Linked DNA regions of Homo sapiens. The protein of the gene in region 1 interacts with the protein of each later gene in a biochemical or structural test. Each region holds a gene or a part of one and is shown in the gene's direction. Other genes may lie near its edges.

Region 1 (7,988 bases):
GCGCAATGGCGGGCTCTGGGCGAGGTCCGGCCCTAGAGCCCCAACGCGACACCTCGCCGCCCTCTGCAGGAGCTGAGGCGGGCGGAGTTGGTGGAAATTATCGTGGAGACGGAGGCGCAGACCGGGGTCAGCGGCATCAACGTAGCGGGCGGCGGCAAAGAGGGAATCTTCGTTCGGGAGCTGCGCGAGGACTCACCCGCCGCCAGGAGCCTCAGCCTGCAGGAAGGTGGGCGGGCCCGGGGTGTGGGGCGGGGTCGAACTGCGGGGGCGGGGTTAGGAATCTGCCTTGGGTCCAAAGAGAGGCTGAAACTGACCGGGGGATGGGGGCGTGACCGGCGACCAGGAGGGGTTAAGGGCTTGGGGCGGGGCTTTGCTGACTGTTCACAGCAAATTCCGGAGGTTCACTGTCTGGGTGCGAATTTCACATCCCCCGTTTACTAGCTTGTGATCTTTCTGTGCCTCAGTTTTCTCATCTCTGAAATGGGACTTATTCTAGTATGGGGTTATTATGTATTGAGGATTTAACGAGTCAGTATGTGAAAACACTTAGCACATAGCTAAGTGGCACATAGTGCTTAACTATGTGAGTGCTAGTAAATGTTTTTGTTGTTGGGGCAGGAGAAAAGGGTGGAGTGAGCCACTTAGAGGGGTTGGGAAGAGTAAAGGATGTTTTAGGATATGGATGAAGCTGACGTGATTTATTCATGCAACAACTATTTATTAGTGCCTTCTATTTCAGACTTTATTTATTTATGTATTTTGATACGGAGTTTCTCTCTTGTTGCCCAGGCTGGAGTGCAATGGCACGATCTCGGCTCACTGCCACCTCCGCCTCCCTGGTTCAAGCGATTCTCCTGCCTCAGCCTCCTGAGTAGCTGGGATTACAGGTCCCCTCCACCACGCCCGGCTAATTTTTGTATTTTTAGTAGAGACGGGGTTTCACTATGTTGGCCAGGCTGGTATCGAACTCCCGACCTCAGGTGATCCATCCGCCTCAGTCTCCCAAAGTGCTGGGATTACAGGCGTGAGCCACCGTGCCCCACCCTATGTCAGACATTATCTTAGCTGCTTGGGCTTCAGCCGTGAACAAAACTGAACAACAGTCCCTGCACTTATGGAGCTTACATTCCAGTGGGGAGAGATTTTTTTTTTTTTTTGAGACGGAGTCTCGCTCTGTTGCCCAGGCTGGAGTGCAGTGGCGCAATCTCGGCTCACTGCAAGCTCCGCCTCCCGGGTTCACACCATTCTCCTGCCTCAGCCTCCCTAGTAGCTGGGAGGGACTACAGGCGCCCACAACCACGCCCGGCTAATTTTTTGTATTTTTAGTAGAGACGAGGTTTCACCGTGTTAGCCAGGATGGTCTCGATCTCCTGACCTCGTGATCTGCCCGCCTCGGCCTCCCAAAGTGCTGGGATTACAGGTGTGAGCCACCGCGCCCAGCCGGGAGAGACATATTTAAGCAAATTAAGTAAAATACCTAGTAAATTAGAAAGCAGTAAGTGCTACAGTTGCCAGGAGGACAATGTGCTACAGCTGCATTTTTATTATTTTATTTTATTTTATTTATTTATTTATTTTGAGACGGAGTCTTGCTCTGTCTCCCAGGCTGGAGTGCAGTGGCACGATCTCGGCTCACTGCAAGCTCCGCCTCCCGTGTTCACGCCATTCTCCTGCCTCAGCCTCCCTAGTAACTGGGACTACAGGCACCCGCCACCATGCCCGGCTAATTTTTTTTGTATTTTTAGTAGAGACGGGGTTTCACCGTGTTAGCCAGGATGGTCTCCATCTTCTGACCTCGTGATCCGCCCTCCTCGGCCTCCCAAAGTGCTGGGATTACAGGCGTGAGCCACCGAGGCCGGCCTACAGCTGCATTTTTAAATGGGGGTGGGCTTGGCTGGGTGCATAATCCTAGCACTTTGGGAGGCTGAGGTGGGCTGATCACCTGAGGTCAGGAGTTCGAGGCCAGCCTGGCCAATATGGCGAAACTCTGTCTCTACTAAAAATTCAAAAATTAGCCGGGTGTGGTGGTAGGCGCCTATAATCCCAGCTACTCAGGAGACTGAGGCAGGAGAATTGCTTAAGGTTGCAGTAAGCCGAGTTCGCGCCACTTCACTCCAGCCTGGGCGAAAGAGCAAAACTCCGCCTAAAAAAAAAAAAAAAAAGGGGTGGGCTGGAAAGGGTGAAAAGGCTAAAGGAGGTAAGGGAACAAGCTATGAGGCCATCTGGAAGAGGGAACAGACAGCAAAAATGCCCCAAGGTGGGACCATGCCTAGCTTGTGGTAGAAACAGTGAGGAAGCCAGTGTCTACGCAATTGAGTTAGTGAAGAGGAGAGTAAGAGAGAAGGCCAGAGAGGTAAGGGGAGGACACTTTTTAGAGGGCTTTATAAGACTTTGGCTTTTATTCTGTGAGGGCTGTGAGCAGGGAGAAACGTGAATTGACTGTGCTGAACTGCTGCATTAACAGTAGAGTATGGCCAAGCATTGGGTGGCTCACACCTGTAATCCCAGCACTCGGGGAAGCCAAGGCGGGAGGATCGCTTGAGCCCAGGAGACTGAAGCTGCAATGAGCCATGATCACACCACTGCACTCCAGCTTGGGCAACAGAGCAAGATTCTGTTTCAAAAACAAGGCCAACAACAACAAACAGTAGAATATATGAAGGCAGGTTTAGGAGCAGGGAGATCAACAAACTGGCTACTGTGATTATCCAGGTAAGAGATGAGGATGCTCAGGACCAAAGGGTTTTGGAGGTATATATATATTTGGATTCTGAATATATTTTGAAGGAGGAGCTTTGAGGACTGGATATTGGGTATGATGGAAAGAGGGTTGTCCAGGATGGATCTGGGGATTTTTGACCTGAGGATGGAGTTGCTGGTCCCTCAAAAGGAGCACACTGAGGCTAGTACTAAGAAAGACCAGGAGTACAGTTTGGATCTGTTAAAGGAGAGGTGTGGTGTGGGACACCCAGGTGGAGATATGATGGAGATGTTGGATGTGAGTCTAGGGTGGAGGGGAGAGTGCTGGACTGGAGAGATATACTTGGGAATTGTTAGCAGATTTATGGTCTTTTAACTTCTCAATCTGGATGAACTTCCCAAGAATTCCCAAGGGGTGACTTGAGCATGTAGACAGAGAGGAGGTCCAAGTCCTGAGGTCTGGGGTAGTGTGTCTTTAAGAGGCCAGAGAGGCTGGGTGTGGTGGCACGGGCCTGCATTTGCAGGAGGATCGCTGGAGCCTGGAAGTTCAAGGCTGCAGTGATTTGTCATTGCACCAGTGTACCACAGCCTGGGTGAAGAGTGAGATCTTGTCTTTTTTTTTTTTTTTTTTTTTTTTTTGAGATGGAATTTCGCTCTTGTTGCCCAGGCTGGAGTGCAATGGCACGATCTCAGCTCACCGCAACCTCCGCCTCCCGGGTTCAAGTGATTCTCCTGCCTCGGCCTCCCTAGTAGCTGGGATTACAGACATGTGCCAACATGCCTGGCCAATTTTGTATTTTTAGTAGAGACAGGGTTTCTCCATATTGGTCAGGCTGGTCTCGAACTCCCGACCTCAGGTGATCCACCTGCCTCGGCCTCCCAAAGTGCTGGGATTACAGGCATGAGCCACCGCACCTGGCGAGATCTTGTCTTAAAAAAAAAAGAGGAGGGGCTGGGCACGGTGGCTCACGCCTGTAATGCCAGCACTTTAGGAGGCCAAGGCGGGCAGATCACCTGACGTCGGGAGTTCGAGACCAGCCTGACCAACATGGAGAAACCCCGTCTCTACTAAAAATACAAAATTAGCTGGGTGTGGTGGTGCATGCCTGTGGTCCCAGCTACTCAGGAGGCTGAGGCAGGAGGGTCGCTTGAACCCGGGAGGCAGAGGTTGCAGTGAGCCAAGATCGCGCCATTGCACTCCAGCCTGGGCAACAAGAGCAAAACTCCATCTAAAAAAGAAAAGAAAAGAAAAGAAAGACAGACAGACAGAAAGAAAGAAAGAGAAAGAAAGGAAAGAAAGCTGGGTGAAAGAAAGAAAGAAAGAAAAAGAAAGAAAGAAAGAAAGAAAGAAAGAAAGAAAGAAAGAAAGAAAGAAAGAAAGGAAAGAAAGCTGGGTGTAGTGGCTCACGCCTGTAATATCAGCATTTTGGGAGGCTGGGGTGGGAGGATCAGTTGAGCCTAGGAATTTGAGATTGGACTGGGCAACATAGTGAGACTGTTTAGAAAAGAAAGAAAGAAATCAGGGAGAGGGAAAGCAAACATCTATGGAGACTGACAAGGAACTCCCAGAGACGCTCCAGAGGGTGTAGCACCTTGGAAGCCAAGGGAAGCAAGGATATGACAGAGAGTGAGGTTAGATCAGATGCTGAGTGGTTTAAGCAGATGAGGCCTGGGACTTGACCCTTGGACTTACTATACAGAGGTCACTGCCTGGAACCTTGAGAGGAGCAGTTCAGATGTGCGTGTTGGAAAGCAGGGTCAGAGGTGTGACTGGAGAACTGGTAACAATGCCACTGGAGAACTCAATACCTTTTGCCTATTAAGGTGAACAGATAAATGGGGCAGGAGCTCCGGGGGAGTGAGGCCATGACAACCTTTCTTATGCGAGAAATAATAATATGTTTGTATGCTGATGGGAATAATGTAGACGAGAAGGACAACTGATGACGTGGGAAGAGGAGAGAATTGCTGGAGGATGTCCCTGAGAAGGCGGTGGAGAGATTGCCCTGAGCTAGGAGTGGGGTTAGTTCATCCCCAGGAACAGGAAGGCGAATGGAGTAAGTCGCCGCAGGAGAAAGGGGGTGAACACACAGTGTGGGAGATTCTGGAAGTTCCCTTCTGATTCTGTTCTCTCGGTAAAAGAAGCAAAGTCAGTATCTGAAACGTAAGGATGGGTAGGGGAGCGACAAGGTGCGGGCGTGGCCTGAGTGGGCGCGGCTTTGTTCATTGCAGGGGGCGGGGATAAGGTCATGGGGCGGGGACTAGCGTAACTGCGACTTAATCCTGCGCTGGGGATTGGAGAAACTAAAATTTGGGGCGGGTCCTCACCGCGAGGGCTCCGTGCAAGTGGGCAGAACTAGGCCCGGGCGGAGCCGGGAGATGCCCACGTGCTGCGCACCTCCACCTCGCCCGCAGGGGACCAGCTGCTGAGTGCCCGAGTGTTCTTCGAGAACTTCAAGTACGAGGACGCACTACGCCTGCTGCAATGCGCCGAGCCTTACAAAGTCTCCTTCTGCCTGAAGCGCACTGTGCCCACCGGGGACCTGGCTCTGCGGCCCGGGACCGTGTCTGGCTACGAGATCAAGGGCCCGCGGGCCAAGGTGGCCAAGCTGGTACGCGTGCTTAGCCCGGCCCCGGCCCTGGACTGCCCCAGCGATCCGGTCTCTGCGCCGTGAGCCCCATTCCCCGCCATCGTGGGCCAGCCTTGCCCTCTGTCTTGTCACTAACCCAAGCTAATTCCACCCTCTGCCCCTTCCTCTCTGCCCCAAACTCTTCCCCGGGAAGGGGGACAGACCCACCCCAGCCCAGGGCCCTCACCCACCTCGGAGAGGCGTCCCCACCATCGGATCCAGGCTTGCTAGGGGTCCTGAACCAGGCTACTTCGAACCAGGAAAGCCAGATTCCAGCCTGAGTGCTGGCCCAATTACTGCTGAGTGGCCCTGGACAAAGTTGTTTCTCTCCCTGGGCCTCAGTTTCCCCATCTCTAGAATGAGGATGTTGGGGAAAATCCCGGATCAGGATCTAGAAGTCTTGGGTCCCCGTCCCTACACTCCTGTTGACTCATTTGGAGATCCTAGATGGCTGCCTGCTTTCCTGGGCACTCATGGTGAAATGACAGGCAAGAAGTGGGGATGATGTTTGGGGAACAAGATACTTGACCCAGCACATCCCCCGCCTGGTCCAATACCAGGTGGGGCTCTTCCTGTCCACTCCCAGCCTCCCACTGTCCCACCGCCTCCTGCCTCTCTCCTCTCTCCCCAGAACATCCAGAGTCTGTCCCCTGTGAAGAAGAAGAAGATGGTGCCTGGGGCTCTGGGGGTCCCCGCTGACCTGGCCCCTGTTGACGTCGAGTTCTCCTTTCCCAAGTTCTCCCGCCTGCGTCGGGGCCTCAAAGCCGAGGCTGTCAAGGGTCCTGTCCCGGCTGCCCCTGCCCGCCGGCGCCTCCAGCTGCCTCGGCTGCGTGTACGAGAAGTGGCCGAAGAGGCTCAGGCAGCCCGGCTGGCCGCCGCCGCTCCTCCCCCCAGGAAAGCCAAGGTGGAGGCTGAGGTGGCTGCAGGAGCTCGTTTCACAGCCCCTCAGGTGGAGCTGGTTGGGCCGCGGCTGCCAGGGGCGGAGGTGGGTGTCCCCCAGGTCTCAGCCCCCAAGGCTGCCCCCTCAGCAGAGGCAGCTGGTGGCTTTGCCCTCCACCTGCCAACCCTTGGGCTCGGAGCCCCGGCTCCGCCTGCTGTGGAGGCCCCAGCCGTGGGAATCCAGGTCCCCCAGGTGGAGCTGCCTGCCTTGCCCTCACTGCCCACTCTGCCCACACTTCCCTGCCTAGAGACCCGGGAAGGGGCTGTGTCGGTAGTGGTGCCCACCCTGGATGTGGCAGCACCGACTGTGGGGGTGGACCTGGCCTTGCCGGGTGCAGAGGTGGAGGCCCGGGGAGAGGCACCTGAGGTGGCCCTGAAGATGCCCCGCCTTAGTTTTCCCCGATTTGGGGCTCGAGCAAAGGAAGTTGCTGAGGCCAAGGTAGCCAAGGTCAGCCCTGAGGCCAGGGTGAAAGGTCCCAGACTTCGAATGCCCACCTTTGGGCTTTCCCTCTTGGAGCCCCGGCCCGCTGCTCCTGAAGTTGTAGAGAGCAAGCTGAAGCTGCCCACCATCAAGATGCCCTCCCTTGGCATCGGAGTGTCAGGGCCCGAGGTCAAGGTGCCCAAGGGACCTGAAGTGAAGCTCCCCAAGGCTCCTGAGGTCAAGCTTCCAAAAGTGCCCGAGGCAGCCCTTCCAGAGGTTCGACTCCCAGAGGTGGAGCTCCCCAAGGTGTCAGAGATGAAACTCCCAAAGGTGCCAGAGATGGCTGTGCCGGAGGTGCGGCTTCCAGAGGTAGAGCTGCCCAAAGTGTCAGAGATGAAACTCCCAAAGGTGCCAGAGATGGCTGTGCCGGAGGTGCGGCTTCCAGAGGTACAGCTGCTGAAAGTGTCGGAGATGAAACTCCCAAAGGTGCCAGAGATGGCTGTGCCGGAGGTGCGGCTTCCAGAGGTACAGCTGCCGAAAGTGTCAGAGATGAAACTCCCAGAGGTGTCAGAGGTGGCTGTGCCAGAGGTGCGGCTTCCAGAGGTGCAGCTGCCGAAAGTGCCAGAGATGAAAGTCCCTGAGATGAAGCTTCCAAAGGTGCCTGAGATGAAACTTCCTGAGATGAAACTCCCTGAAGTGCAACTCCCGAAGGTGCCCGAGATGGCCGTGCCCGATGTGCACCTCCCAGAAGTGCAGCTTCCAAAAGTCCCAGAGATGAAGCTCCCTGAGATGAAACTCCCTGAGGTGAAACTCCCGAAGGTGCCCGAGATGGCTGTGCCCGATGTGCACCTCCCGGAAGTGCAGCTCCCGAAAGTCCCAGAGATGAAACTCCCTAAAATGCCTGAGATGGCTGTGCCAGAGGTTCGACTCCCCGAGGTGCAGCTGCCAAAAGTCTCAGAGATGAAACTCCCCAAGGTGCCTGAAATGGCCGTGCCCGATGTGCACCTCCCAGAGGTGCAGCTGCCCAAAGTCTGTGAAATGAAAGTCCCTGACATGAAGCTCCCAGAGATAAAACTCCCCAAGGTGCCTGAGATGGCTGTGCCCGATGTGCACCTCCCCGAGGTGCAGCTGCCGAAAGTGTCAGAGATTCGGCTGCCGGAAATGCAAGTGCCGAAGGTTCCCGACGTGCATCTTCCGAAGGCACCAGAGGTGAAGCTGCCCAGGGCTCCGGAGGTGCAGCTAAAGGCCACCAAGGCAGAACAGGCAGAAGGGATGGAATTTGGCTTCAAGATGCCCAA
Region 2 (7,493 bases), on another chromosome or scaffold:
TTACCAGTAGAGTTGAAACCTTCTGTCTATTCTCCATGATTAAAGTTCTCTCTTTCCTTCCAAAGTAACCACTATCCTGGATTTGGTGTTTATTATTCCCATGCATTGATTTATATACTTTTACTACACATGTATATATTTTTAAACAACATATACTACTGCTTTATATGTTTTAAAAGTTTGTATCAGTGGTGTATCATACGTATTCTTCTGCAACGTGATTTCTCTTTTCTTTTTTCTCCCCGCCAAGAGACGAGATCTTGCACTGTTATCCAGGCTGAAGTGAAGTGGTGTGATCATAGCTCACTGCAGTCTCGAGCTCCTGGGCTGGAGCAATCCTCCAGCCTCACCACCCCCCAGGTGGCACCACCATGCCCAGCTAATTTTTTTTCCTTCATAGAGACAGGGTCCTGCTATGTTGTCCAGGCTGATCTCAAACTCCTGGCCTCATGTAGTCCTCCTGCCTCAGCCTCCCAAAGTGTTGGGATTACAGCCATGAGCCACTGCACCTGCCTTGAAACTTATTTTTTCTATTCAATGTTATATTTGTGAAAAGCATCCATGTTGTAACACGGGTCTCTAGTTTACTCATTTTTTTCACTATTGTATACTCCTGTAATGACTATACCACACTTTATCTATTCTGCTGTTGATGGACATTTAGGCTATTTCTAGTTTTGAGCAATCACAGAGGTACTGTGATCATTCTTGTGTAGCTATTCTTAGGTGACAATTTCTACTGGGTAAATATCTGGGTGGAATTGTCCCCTTACAGGGTATGTGCATTGTCACCTTTGGGAGATATTGTCAAATCACTGTGCAAAATAGTTTACTAACTTACACTCCCACCATCAGTGTATAAAGGTTTCAGGTTTATTGCATTAATTGGCTCTTAGAGTTTTCTCCCATGGGGATGCATCTCTGATTTTTTAATTGGATAATAAATTTTATTTCTCAAAATTGCTTGACAGCTAAACTTCTCAGGAATACGTTTCCTTGTTTTCATTTGTAAATGAGGGGATTGGCCTAGATGATCTCAAAGGTCCTTTCTAGCTTGAAAATCTGAGTTTCTATGATTTATTCATTAAATCAGGTACATCTGAAGCAGAACCTTGGTTTTTTGGGTGCATTGCAGGAATTATTTTAGGAACTATAACAAAGTTTGTTACCAGTGAAATGTGTATCTTCTCTCTTACTGCCATGCTGTCAGGTAGAAAGCCAGTGGTATGAGAGAAAAGGCAGTTACACAGTGTTACCTTGGATTGGGGAGAGGATTCTGTAGCCCATGGGAAGGGGGTCGCCTTCCCATTGCCCTGTTCTTTACAGAACCTCTACATCTTAGAAGTCTTCCCTATCTCTTGAATTTTTTCTCCCAAGAATAATAAATGTTTGCTGGGTTTTTTTTGTTTTTTTTTTTTTTTTTTTTTTTTTTTTTTGAGATGGAGTCTCGCTATGTCACCCAGGCTAGAGTGCAGTGGCACAATCTCGGCTGGGAGGCTGAGGCAAGATAATCACTTGAACCCAGGAGGCGGAGGTTGCAGTGAGCCGAGATCATGCCACTGCACTCCAGCTGCACTCCAGCCTGGGCGACAGAGCGAGACTCCGTCTCAAAAAAAAAAACAAAAAAAAGCCCAAAAAACCCGGATGTCCAGGCTTCCTTTCTGCGCATGCGCACAGTAGATTTTTTAAAAATGTTTTTACAAAATTGGAGTTCCACTAAGCATGCTATTCTGGCATTTGTTTTCTTTGGCCTAAAATATATAACTTTGAAATCTGTCCAAATCAGTGCATATAGATCTACCTCTTTCTTTTTAACAGCTACATAATATTCGCCGTGTGAGTGGCTATCGTAATAGATAACATTTGAATATCTACTAAATGCCAGAAACTATGAATTAACTCCTCTCAACAAAGCTAAGAGGTAGGTCTTTTTGTTATCCCTGTTTCACAGATGTGGGGACTGGAGCACAGTAAGGTTGGGGAGCTTGTCCATATATGTGCCGATAAGTGGCCAAGGTGCAAGCCAGAGCATCCTGGTTCAGAGCCTATGTCCCAGACAATAATGCTGTGATATGTCTCAGACATAGTCTACTCACCAGTCCCCCGCTGGTGGACATTTGAGTGAATGCAGATTTTTGCTATTGCAAACAATACTGCAGCAAACATCTTTGTCCACTTCTGGAGGTCTTTTTGTAACATAGGCTCTTAGATTTCTCTGGTTTCTAGGTGGAAAGAGCTTATTTATTGAAAAAAAAATTTATTGAGCTCTAGGCATTGGGGAGGCTCTGAGCTTAAAATAGGAGACTTGACCAGAATTTCACTTCTCAGATGTCCTATAAAGGTCACTTAAGTGCTTTTCATGATTTGCCAGCCTGGTGCTGCCCCATTAGACTCACTGCATCTTATCTGTTTTTAATTGCTTGTGTCTTTGCCTGGGTAGTGGCATAACTGAGTCAATGCTTGGGCTCGCACCTGGTGGTCTATAGCCAAAAATTGTCTCCATTGTATCCATTGTATGGATACACTTTCCAGGTATCAGTGATTACAATGCCTCAGAGCCTGGGTTCTAGAATTTACAGAGGCAGAATAGCATAATGATAAATAACTTGTATTCTGAGACACAACTGCCTGGGTACAAATCCCAGCTCTTCACGATGTATTCACAATATGACTCTGAACAAGTTACTTACCATCTCTGTGCCCCCATTTTCTCATCCACACAATGAGGATAGCAATAGTAACTACTTTATAGGGTTGTTGTAAGGATTAAATGAGTTAATGTATGTAGACTGCTTAGTTAATATATATAAAACACAGAATACAGTTATTATTTATTTGATTATGGAAAAGCTGGCACACCAATCTTTCCATAAAATAGTTGTTGACCTCCTTGTATTTTGGTGGGGAGCGGAGAGGGGGCGAAGAATTAGCTGTTATTAAATAGGTAATGTGTTCACATGGGTCAAAATTCAAAAAGTACAAAATGATATTTAGTAAAAAATTTTATCTCCTATTGGCAACATGGGGCTTATGTGGTGTGGGGAATAATTCTGTTTCTCAACCTGAGAAGTGATTATATGAATTTACTTTATAATAATTTAATATACTTTACATATATGCTTTATGTACTTTTATAGGTATATTTCTCATTTTGAAAAGGGCAGAAATAGTAGAAATCCCAAAGACATGGGGAGAATTTTTACTGCTCAGTTCCCTTCTCCAATGGTAACAGGCTCTTTTGTATACTTCCAAAGATATTTTTTTGCATCTATAAGCACATATTTTTAGTATACAAATGTAGACTAACCACCACCTTGATTTTTCTCTTGTTTTCTTTTTACTTAAGGTATATCATAAGAGATCATTTTGTATTGGCATATAAAGAGTTCTTAATTATTTTTTAAGTAGCTGTATAGAATTCCATTGTATGGATACACCATTATTTAATTAGTCCCCTAGTGATAGACGTTTAAGTTTTTGCAATTTTTTTTGCCATTTCAAGCCTTGTTTCAAATGCTGACATTGTACTTATTATTGTACTTGTTTCAAATGCTAACATTGTACATTATTCCACACAAATTTAAGTAGCATATGTTCCTATACATCTCCAGTTTATGGGTGCCTAGCACTGTGTTAAAAATATGTGGGATATAAATAAATATCAGGTGTGGGTTTTGTCCCCCATGAGCCAACAATCTTGCTTTCATGCTGAAATCCTAATATCTCCCCTGTGTTTTTAAAGCTTTTTATCTCTGCTCAAGAGAAACAATGCCTTCCCACTGAATCCTCCTCAAACAGCCTGTGTATGGCTTTTAGAACCAGGAAGAGTATTTGTAGTAGCAAAAAGCCACAGTTTGGTATCCAGCAGGGTCCCTAGGGGAGGGCAGGGAAGGCTTATTGCCACCCAAAAAGCATCCTCCACACCTGCATATGTCAAAATCTTCTCTTTCACCTTAGCTCGAAAGCTTCTTTTCCATAAATACATCCCAAATCCCTCCAACTAGAAGTGAACACTTCCTCCTCTGTGACCTCTTATACCATAATTTCTGTGTCTTGCTGTCTCAGTCCATTTTCTGTTGCTTATAACAGAATACCTGAAACTGAGTAATTTATAAGAAAAGGAATTTATTTCTTACAGTTATGGAAGCTGAGAAGTCCAAGTTTGAGGGGCTGCATCTGGTGAGAGTCTTCTTGCTGTCATAAACTCTCTGAAGCATCCCAAGATGGCACGGAGTATCACATGGCTAGAGGGCTTAGTGTGCTAGTTCAGATATCTCTTCCTCTTTTTATAAAGCCATGAATTCTCCTCCCGTGATAACTTATTAATTCATTAATCCATGAGTGGATTAATCCATTCATGAGGGCAAAGCCCTCATCACCTCTTAAAGGCTCCAGCTCTCAATACTGTCACATTGGGGACAGATATTCAAACCACAGCACCCACGTATGGTATGAATAATTTTCCCCGCTAAAATTATCCTTTTTTTTGTTTGTTTATATGTCTTGTTTCCTACATTTGACCAGTTGGGGACCAAGTCTGATTCATCTTCAATCTCTCATAGCCTTTGCAAATTAAAAAGAGGAATAGGAAAAAAATCAGTATGTGCAGATGGTGATTTGAGATAGGATGGAGCTAGATAGAGGCAGAAGAATCTTTGTGTATAACAAAGAGTACTCGCCCAGGAATCAGGAGGCCCTGGTTCACTTGTGTCTCAGCATCTTCATCTGTAAAGTGGGATCTTAATTCTGACTGGGACAACTTTACTAGGTTGTACTGAGGATCATGAAAGACAGCACAGCCGACTACAAAGGCATGCTATATGAATACAGAGAATGATAGTGTTTGGTGCTTAGCAACCCTTAAACATTAACACTTGATACATTAGCAAACTAAGGCCTAGAGAGGCAATATGACTTGAGGTCACAGTCAGGGGCAAAGTCTAAAAAGAGCAGAGGATAGTCATTTTAGGACCAGAAGAAATCTATTCCTTTTCTGCCTGTGTTAGGATTAGAAGGTCTGAATTCTCTGACTCCTTGGTTTATCTTAGTTTTGTTTTGTGAAGCCTTAACCTAGCATCAGGTCAGTAGAGGAATAAGAAAGAATCTTATAATCTGGAGAGAAATGAATCTCAAAAGAGAAGAAAAGAGATAGTTGATGAAAGAAGAGATACAAACGACCACTAAAAGTGTGGAGGAAAAGCTAAATATCTTTAGCAATTAAGGAAACGCAAAGTAATCCTCAAAATGCCATTTTCACTTACAAAGTTGGCAAATAAAGTAAGAATACATACTGTGGACAAGTGTGCTGGGAAACTGGCACTCTCATACATTGCTAGTAGTAGTGTAAAATGATATAACTTTTTCTAGGGCAATTTAGACATATGTATCATAAACGCTTTGATCCAGGAATTCTCCCTTATAGGCAATTATCCTATGGAAAGAATCACAAATATGCACAAGGTTGTTCACTGCACTTTGATTTATAAAAAAGAAGAACTATAAACATATGTCTAATTGTTAAACTATGGTGTATCCATTCAGTGGGATACTATACAATGACGATAGCTAACACTTATTGAGTTGTGTATTGTTGCCAGACACTGTGCTAAGTTATTTAAATTATTAACTTTAATCATTAGAATAATTCTGTGAGGATGCTATCATTATTTATCCCCATTTTGCAGATGAGGACACTGAGGCTCAGAGAGGTTAACTTGTCCTGGACCACACTGCTAATAGGTTGAATAGTGTGGATTTGACTCTAGGTCTGTCTGATGCCAGTGCCCATGGCCTCAGTCACAGTGCTGTACTTCCTATGCAGCTGTTAAAAATCATGTTTTAGGCTGGGCGTGGTGGCTCACACCTGTAATATAAACACTTTGCGAGGCTGAGGCAGGCTGATCACTTGAGCTCAGGAGTTTGAGACCAGCCTGGCAACATGACAAAACCCCGTCTCTACCAAAAATACAAAAAATTATCCAGGCATTGTGGTGCACACCTGTAGTCCCAGCTACCTGGGGGTACTGAGGCAGGAAGATCTCTTGAGCCTGGGAGGTTGCAGTGAGCCAAGATCACGCCAGTGCACTCCAGCCTGGGTGACAAAGTGAGAGACCCTGTCTCAAAAAAAAAAATCATGTTTTAAGGGAATAGTTAATGACATTCTAAAATGACCATGATATAATGGCAAGTGAAAAAAGCAGGCTACGAAATGATAGCATGTGATGGCGATTTTATTTTAAAAGTGTATGTATATATTTTTCAGAGAAAAACTAAAGTTCATAGCTGTTAGTAATGATTATCTCTGGGTGGTAATATTACAGATTATTTTTATTTTCATCCTTATTATTTTTTGTATTTCCCAGTTTTTCTATCAAGAACATGTATTACTTCTATAATCAGCAAAAATAAAAATGTTAACATAAAAAGAGGTCTGAAAGCAAGCCTCTTGTAGCCTTTATGCTTATAACACATCCATAGCAGTACTTCATTTTTTAATCTAAGTGACTAATGCTTTTGTGGTGTCTGATCACAGAGGAGCCATATTTTCAGTCATTCTTTGGGGATGAGTAGCTACATAGCTGTATAATCTATAGGGACTTTGACTACAACAAAGTACCCTTTAGACCACAACCTCTTGTGCCCTTGTGATTTGTAATAATCTCCATTCTTTGGACTATGGTCTCCTGAGGAGGAGGGGTGGGTACTTAATGCAAGGAGTCCACATATCTTTAAATGCATAAATGTTTTTCTCACTCGGTAAGTTCTAAAAGTACAGCTACTATTGTGGGTGAGAGTGGGTGAAGTGAGATTTTTTTTTTTTAGTCTTAAGAAGGGCCTCTTATATCTAAAACATTGTGAACCACTGGAATAGAGTCTAAAAATGGTGGTTATTTAATTATCTGCATCATGAATAAAAGATGCTCAGTTCCGGCCCTTTGAATCAGGGTTTGTGTGTCTTTGCCCCACACTAAAAGAGATCACCTTATTATTTGCAAGCATCATCTTTGCCACCCATTCTCATCACATTTGTTTACATTCTCTAAACCATCAATTGGTTTGTACATCTAAACTTTGTCCCCATATTTCTCCTTTACTAAGCTTAGCTCTTTACATCTAAAGCTGAATATGTCTCAAGCATAGCTTATTATGCAACACTGCCCCTATTCCCTACACAGCAAATTTACTCTTTCTCCTGTCTTCCTTCTCTTGCTGTTGGCAACATTATCCACTCAGCTCCCAAATTAGAAACCTTTGACTCCTTCTCCTCCCTTACTGTTCACATCCAATTGATCATCAAGCCCAGTGTATTTTACCTCTCCAATGTACCTCAGAGTCATGCTGTCTGCTTCATCCTCACGGCAACTGCCTGCCTATTCTAACAGCTTCTCAACAGGTTCTTCCTTTTGGAGAATCACTCTATAAGGAAGGCAGGGGGCTCTTTCTAAAATGCAAATCTCGGCCAGGCACAGTGGCTCATGCCTGTAATCCCAGCA

The links. Proteins that work in one complex are often made in the same cells at the same time.
Region 2: the proteins of PRX (region 1) and DRP2 form a complex in vitro, tested with the Homo sapiens proteins (one study listed by BioGRID).

Annotation. Positions count from the first base shown.
Region 1 is NC_000019.10:40,395,944-40,403,931, reverse strand, and holds part of PRX (periaxin), read left to right. Parts: intron 1-69; coding exon 70-226; intron 227-4,627; exon of another isoform or gene 4,628-4,675; coding exon of another isoform or gene 4,676-4,757; intron 4,758-5,115; coding exon 5,116-5,312; coding exon of another isoform or gene 5,313-5,375; exon of another isoform or gene 5,376-5,961; coding exon 5,962-7,988. UniProt on the Homo sapiens protein: Scaffolding protein that functions as part of a dystroglycan complex in Schwann cells, and as part of EZR and AHNAK-containing complexes in eye lens fiber cells.
Region 2 is NC_000023.11:101,222,786-101,230,278, forward strand, and holds part of DRP2 (dystrophin-related protein 2), read left to right. Parts: intron 1-1,818; 5' UTR 1,819-1,921; intron 1,922-7,493. UniProt on the Homo sapiens protein: Required for normal myelination and for normal organization of the cytoplasm and the formation of Cajal bands in myelinating Schwann cells.